Homo sapiens: one gene and its partner. The protein of the gene in region 2 purifies or fractionates together with the protein of the main gene of each other region. This does not show direct contact. Each region holds a gene or a part of one and is shown on either strand. Other genes may lie near its edges.

What was found. The genes of interacting proteins can lie anywhere in the genome.
Region 1: the proteins of SNN (region 2) and FSAF1 purify together in Homo sapiens (affinity purification with mass spectrometry; one large-scale study listed by BioGRID and IntAct). This does not show direct contact.

Annotation. Positions count from the first base shown.
Region 1 is NC_000001.11:231,224,037-231,227,685, reverse strand, and holds part of FSAF1 (40S small subunit processome assembly factor 1), read left to right. Parts: intron 1-617; coding exon 618-713; intron 714-860; coding exon 861-947; intron 948-2,162; coding exon 2,163-2,215; intron 2,216-3,271; coding exon 3,272-3,407; 3' UTR 3,408-3,649.
Region 2 is NC_000016.10:11,666,940-11,670,688, forward strand, and holds the start of SNN (stannin), read left to right. Parts: upstream 1-1,515; 5' UTR 1,516-1,601; intron 1,602-3,749. UniProt on the Homo sapiens protein: Plays a role in the toxic effects of organotins. Plays a role in endosomal maturation.

The DNA.
Region 1 (3,649 bases), on a different chromosome or scaffold from region 2:
ACCCAGGAGGCAGAGCTTGCAGTGAGCTGAAATCATGCCACTGTGCTCCAGCCTGGGCAACAGAGTGAGACTCCGTCTCAAAAAAAAAAAAAAAAAAAAACCGTGGGCGAGAGCCAGGCACGGTGGCTCACACCTATAATCCCAGCACTTTGGGAGGCTGAGGTGGGAGGATCACTTGAGCCTAGGAGTTCAAGGCCAGTCTGGGCAACATAGTGAGACCTCTTCTCTATAAAACATTTTTTAAGAATTAGCTGGGTGTGGTGGTGCGTGCCTATAGTCCTAGCTACTCGGGAGGCTGAGGCAGGAGATCACATGCCCAGGAGGTCAAGGCTGCAGTGAGACATGATCATGCCTCTTTTTAACTGTACTCCATCCTGGCGGGTAACAGAGCAAGACCCTGTCTCAAAGGAAAAAAAACAGGAGAAAGATGTTGTGAGAGATGGTGTATGGTAGGAGAGCCTCCATAGAGCTCCTTTGACCACATGACAGTGGAGTTATTATTCCTGTACGCTGTCATTACAGAGCGGTGGATCTGAAATGCATTACTTCTGGCAGTATGTTTTTTTCTTTGGAGTTGTTGGAATGCACTTGCGTCTGATTATGCTTTGTGTCCGCAGGCTCGTTTAGAAGTGCACCGGTTTGGTATCACGGGTTATGGAAAAGGAAAGGAGAGAATCCTGGAACAGGAACGTGCCATTATGCTGGGCGCTAAGGTGAGGGGCTGCTGCTACCTTTCATCACTAGACAACATGCAAAAAAAGCAAGAGCAAGGAAAGCTAAGAGCAAGTCAGGGCAAGGGACACTGGAACATTTTTGCAGAATAAAATATGATGGTTTGTTTCTTTGTTCTTTCATTACAGCCTCCTAAAAAGAGTTATGTGAATTACAAGGTTTTACAGGAGCAAATTAAAGAAAAAAAGGCAGCAAAGGAAGAAGAAAAGAGACTGGTAGGTGTGATGGTCTGTCCTTTATTCAACTAGAATGGGAAGATGGATGCTCTTTGCCACAGTGGAATGCCGGAAGCCGCTGCTTGGAGAGCAATGAAGGCACCAGAGTTAAAGGATCCCATGCTCCCCATTTCTTCGAGTTAGCTCTGTTTAGTAATACCAGCCAAGTAATCTGGCGTACTTACATGCAAGATTTGCTTTGAAATAGCAAACTCCTTGTCTTAGTCCGTTTTTGTTGCTGTAAAGGAATGCCTGATGCTGCGTAATTTATAAAGAAAGGAGGCTGATTTGGAGCATGGTTCTGCAGACTGCATGGAAAGCATAGCACTGGCATCTGCTCGGCCTCCGGTGAGCATCTGAAGCTGCTTCCGCTCATGAGGGAAGGCAGAGGGAAGCCCATGTGTACAGAGATCACATGGCAAGAGCGAGACATGAAAGAGCGAAGCAGCAGTGGGGAGAGGTGCCAGGCTCTTTTTAACAAACAGCTCTCATGGGAAGTGGGAAGTAACAGAGGGAGAACTCACTCATTACCATGAGGACAGCACCAAGCCATTCATGAGGGATCCATTGCCATGACCCAAACACCTCCCACTAGGTCCCGTCTCTAATGTTGGGATCAAATTTCAACCTGAGGTTTGGAGGGTCAGCTATCCAAACTATAGCAATCCTGTTCCAATAATGCAGGCTACTTTGATCTTTCTTCTATACTTAGGTTTTTTTTTTTTTTTTTTTTTTTTTTTGCATTTTACGTTGTATAACCTTGTATACAACACAAGGGCCTATGAAAAACCACAAGGGGAATAGATGTTACACTTTCTACCTTTCACCTAAAATGGAAGATTTGAGCTTTCAGTGTAAGACTATTAGTCTTACCTGGAATAGCCATTCACATTCTTTTGTCTTTTTCTTTCTAACTGAGACAGGATCTTGCTGTGTTGCCCAGGCTGGTCTTGAACTCCTGGGATCAAGTGATCCTCCCCCCTTGGCTTCCTGGAGTGCTAGGACTATAGGCATGAGCCACCACGCCAGGCCCAGCCTTTCACATTCTTGAAAGGGTTTTAGGGTAAAACTTTGAGACTGTTATGTTTAATATGCCCACTTGAAAGAAATGTTAAAAATGGTATCTCAATGACTTTTGGTCACAAACCTCTTGCCTTTTGTTTGAATCCCATTATCCACTACTAATATGTATATGATCTTAAATTCTGAAATCAGGCCCAAGAAACAGATATTTTCAAGAAAAAGAAGAGGAAAGGACAGGAGGACAGGTGAGTGATTTTATCAGGTCCTGGGGTTGAACAATCTGGATGAACCTACTGATGAGTTCTGACAAGGACGCCTTGAATGTATGTGGTGTTGCTAGCCCATTAGAGCGCTTCACTGTCTCTCATTTATCCTTGTCAAAGTAGGATTTAGTAAACTGCCCAAGATCAAACAACTGCCTGAGAACTGAATTAGGAAGTTTCTCCAATCTTCCACTTTTCACCGACACTCTAAGTGACTAGTGGAAAAGCTGCAGTTTACATTTCCAAGAAAAGACTTCTAAGAGTGCTGCTACAGCAGCGTAGTCTGGGTCTGTATAGCCTGCTCTTTGACATACCACGTAAGATAGAGCACCGTAATTATGAATAAGGGATGTTGACTTTGTTGCTTTATACTTGTTTGTTAGCTTTTGTTCAAATGCCTTTTTCTCTGTCTTTGAGTTACTGTTTCAGAATGGACTCTTTTTGTCTTAGCCTGTTTTCTTGGGCTCCTAGTGCACTTGTACATGCTGTAAAATGGTCATTTGTTCTGGCCACCGATCTGTATCTGTTGAATGCCTCTTTGTGCCAGGCATGTGGGTGTCTTAGGTATTGGTGTACAGCTGTAATCACACTAAAGATATCCCTGCCCTTGAGGAGCTTCATTGTAGGGAGAGAAACACCCCAAAACATACAAATGGATAAGTAAGATGATATCAGGTACTGGCAAGTATTGTAGAGAGGCTGAAAGAGAGCATTGTGAAGGAAAACCACAGGGAGAAGGTGAGCTGGGAAATTAGTCTGAGGAGGTGACATCGGAGCTGAGAACTGAACAAAGAAGAGGGGCAGCCTGGAAAGAGCTGGTAGCAGAACATTCCTTGCAGAAGAAACCAGTGCAAGGGCCCTGAGGCAGGAAGGCAGTAGCATGTTTCAGGGACCACAGGAAGGCGTATGGGGTGGGGGGTGTGCATGGCAGGCGACCAGGAGTTTGCAGGCCAGACTGCAGTGGCCTGGTTGGTGGTACTGTGATGCTTGTTGGTAAGCTTGACTATTTATAGTACCTTTCTCTTACTTTAAATGTAGGAAATCCAAAAAGAAGTCCGCTCCCAGTATTTTGTCAAATGGACGGATTGGACAGGTTGGAAAATTCAAAAATGGAACACTGATTCTGAGCCCAGTTGATATCAAGAAAATAAATTCTTCCAGAGTGGCCAAATGAAGTACTTTGTCAAATAAAACGAGGATGGGAACAACTGAGTCAACTGCAGCGGCCCTGGACCCTGTGCGACTCTAGATAGATCGTTCTTAACACGCATTTCACAGACTGCTTTTTCATTTTAGAAAAAAAGTCAAACAGAAGTAACATTTCTAGTTGCCGAAGTGTCTGCTTCATGGTGCTGAACGTGTCAGGCCCAGTGCAGCATGAATGTGAAGTGAACCCACTGAAAAGTGATTTTTAAT
Region 2 (3,749 bases):
GAGCAAGACCTTCTCTCTAAAAAAAAGAAAAAAAATTGCTTCGTCAAATCTGCCCACATTCATAGATATAGGCTGAGTGGGACGATGGCTTGAGCCCAGGAAGGAGTTGGATGGAGGCTGTAGTGAGCTGTGATTGCACCACTGTACTCCAGCCTGAGTGACAGACCAAGACCCCGTCTCAAAAACAAAACAAAAAACCCCAAGGGAGCTACTCTTGGCTGGGCGATCAGGGAGGGCCCTCCTGAGGAAGGGGCACTTAAGCTGAGATCGGGAAGATGAAGTAGAAGAGTTCCAGCTGCAGGGAGCCACATAGGCAAAGGCCTGGCGGTGGGAAAGGCTTGGTGCACTGGGCGCAGGGAAGAAAGCCCAGCGAGGCTGAGTGGAGGGAGTGAGGGCCTGGCCACCTCAGCCTCGTGAGCCCAACCCGCCATGCTCTTCCAGAGGCTTCTGCTTGAGAATGGGAAAGAAGTTTCCAGCAAATAAGGCCCCCGTTCCCAGGAGGAGGTCCCAGCTCGCCCTGCCCCCTCCTGTCTTCTCAAGTCCCCTGGGCCACAGAAGCCTTGAGGGACCCACCCTCACCCCTTCTGTGGGCCCCAGGGCTGGGGTGTCCTCTCGCCGATGGCCTTCTTGGGGTGGATGAGTGGAGATTACTCCAATAACTGGAGCCTCTGTCTTCCCAGGTAGACAGGCCTGGCCTCAAAACCCTCTCTCCATCAGGAGCAGGCTGTGGGACTTCAGCTCTTTGGAGCCTCAGGTTCCTCATCTGTAAAATGGGAAGATTCTTTCTTCCGGAGTCATCTTAATAAAATGTGTTGGGCTGTTTATACAGGGCAGGCATTTGGTGGGGGCCAAACCACCGGGTAATTATGCTAAAAATAACTATGATTATAGGTGGCAGAGGGGTGCAAATGCCTCACAGCCTCATCCCGCAGAGGAATGAGAGCTTCGTCAGGGCCGGGACCTTGTCTGGCTCGTGGCTGCTCCCACGACGACTGGCGTGGCAGGCACGTGGTCAGTGTTCCGCCATCGACTGACTGGGCGGATGAATGATACATAAATGAATTCGCGAACGACTGATGCCCAGCTTCCTCCCGAAGCAAGGTCATTCACCTCAGCGGTCGCGCCTCTCCCCTGCCCCTGCCCCGGATTCCCCGCCGCTCTCAGCTCTCGAGGAGTATGCAGCACTCTTCCGTGCAGCGTGCCTCAGTTTCCTCCGCTGTAAGCAGGCGGGACCAAGGCAGCCTGCCGGGGTCAGGATGAGGCTGGCAGAGGAAGGGCGCCTGTAGTGGGGCCCCGTACCCACGGGCGCCCAATCCGCGCTCGCCAGGGCCGAGCCCGCCCGCCGCGCGCAGCCCCCGCCCCACCGCCTGCCGGCCCCGAGCACACGTGACTCCGCCCCGGCCCGCCCCGCCCCGCCGTCCCAGCGCGGGCTCCCATTGGCCTTTCTGGGAGGCCCCGTCCCCAGCCGGGGAGGAGCCGGGCCCCGCCCGCCGCAGCGCGGGGCTCCTGCGTCCCGAGTGCGCGGCGGCCGGACCGGGCGGGCGGAGCCGGGCCCGCGGGGCTGCTGCGGGGCGATCGGGCCGGGCCGCTGCCGCGCCATGGTGAGCCGGGCGGGGCAGGCCGCGCGCTCGGGCCGGGCGGGGGCGCCGGGGCCCGGGGGCGGGAAGGGGGAGGCCAGGACGAGGAGGGGCGCGCGCGGCGGCGGGGCCGGGCCGGGGTCTGCGGGCGGGGGAGGGGCGGCCCGGCGGGCGCGGCTCGGGGGAGGGTCCGTTCCAGGGGCCGCGCCCGCGGGCTGGGGTTCTTTGTCAGCGGCGCTGCGGCGAGATCCGGACAAAGGAGGCGGCGGGGGGCGGAGGCCGCTTTGTGGGGATCGCGGGGCGCTCGCCCCCGCCCGTGCAGCCCCCGCCCGTCCTCAGCTACGCTCCCGCCTTCCCCCGGCATTTCGGGGTTCTTCAAAATTCTGGGAGCTCCGGGGAGGGCTCCGGGGATAGGGGTCCAGGTGACGTCCGGCGCCCGTCTCGCGGGTAGGGAAACTGAGGCCGGGCCGCAGCGTTCGGCGCCCGGTTCCGTGGGCAGCGGCTGCGCGGCGTGGGCATGCCTAGCTCCCCTGGTCCCCGTCCCACACCCCGCCTCCGTCGGGCCGATTCGAGCTACCTCCCCAGCTGCCGTCCCCTCTCCAGCTGTCGCCCCCTGGGCCGAGCCCCCTCCTCCCTGGAGCCTCGCTTTGCTCCTCCGTGGAGTGGGGGAGACGCCGGCGCCGCCGGGCAGGGTGGAACGGGAGGGTGCGCGGAGCGCGCCTGGCACCGCGCCTGCCACGCCGCCCGCGCTCAGCACTCGGGAGCCGCCGGGGCGCTGTCACCCCTAAGTCCCCAGCACCCAGCCCAGGTCGCCCAGCCCGCCCCAGCGAGGGCCACACTGGGGTTCACCTGTCCGCGGCCCCTCAGGCACGCGGGAGAGGAGGTAGGGAGAATGTGGCATTTTAGAGTCAGGGTCGAAATGCGGGATTTTGGATGCAGGTTGCCTGGGTTTGAATCCCTGCGCGTCTACTTTTGAGCTGTGTGACCTTGGGCAATGGACTTAACTTCTCTGAGCCACCAATTTCTGTATCTGCCAAGAGGGAACAGTAATAGCTCAACTGCCCTGTTGTCTTGAGGCAGAAAGGAGACATCTGCGTGAGCTGTTTATCTCAGTGTCTGGCACATATAATTGCCACCAACTTTCTCCGGCATCTACAAGCAAAGTTGTTTGGCCAAACAGGCCAACCCTGGGGCAGCCTGTGAAAATGACCAGCGGGTGATTCACAGGGTGGGGGCATGAGCCTCTGGCCTGGCCCGAGGAAGACCCCGACTGACCTTGGGGCAGTCCCGGTTCAGAGCTCTGCGGGCTCCCGCTTCCTCTTTTGCCACTGGGGAACCTAGGGGATTCTGGAGCGAGTTTCCTCTTCTGAGGATGGGGGTGTCATGGGTGGGGGTGGAGGATGAGATAACACTGGCCAGAGAGCTGGGCACAGCCCCATCAGTGTCAGTCCCACTGGCATCCGGCCGTTCTTGGTCCTGGCTTCTGGAGGGCTGGGGCCTTGTGTGATGCGTCCTTGTGTCCCACTGGCTGCTGGAGGCCCAGGGCAGAACGGACGTCCCGCCTCGTCCTGGCTGTGTCCAGCAGTGCCCTCTTCTCCCTACAACCCTGTTTTCCCAGTCAGAACCTGGGGCAGGAAACGTTTCTGGTTTGTGACCCGGGGTTCGCTGAAGAGTTTGTTGGCACCCTTGGCAGGTGGCTTTATGGGGGGAGGCAGTACTGAAAGCCCCGTAGGGATGGCTGGTCCCCTGTAAGCAGGGCAGCCCTCCTGGCGTCTGTCAAGGAGCCTCAGGAGGTGGCGGCTGCAAGGCGGGGGTGTTTTGCTGGTGGTGAGCCCGGCAATGCTCATGATGTGCCCGGTTGAGTTAGGAGGAGGCAGCGTGTCCCTGGGGAAGGGGTGTTTGTGGCACTGGGCCTGGGCCAGGCTCTGTGCCCTTCTGGCCCTGGGGGTGGGCTTGGGGATCCCTCGGGCTCAGTGTTCTCCCTTTGTCCCTGCTGTAGCACACAGGAAGGTGTGGCTGGTGACATGCAAACCTGGTGACCTCATGTCCCTTTTGTTTTCACTTTTCTTACCACTTCTCATCCTCCCCACGACCTGGTAGATGAGGTCAGGGACTCGTATCCGCTTTGCGCATTGAGAAACTGAGGCCAAGAGGAGCAGCTTGCTTGGCTGG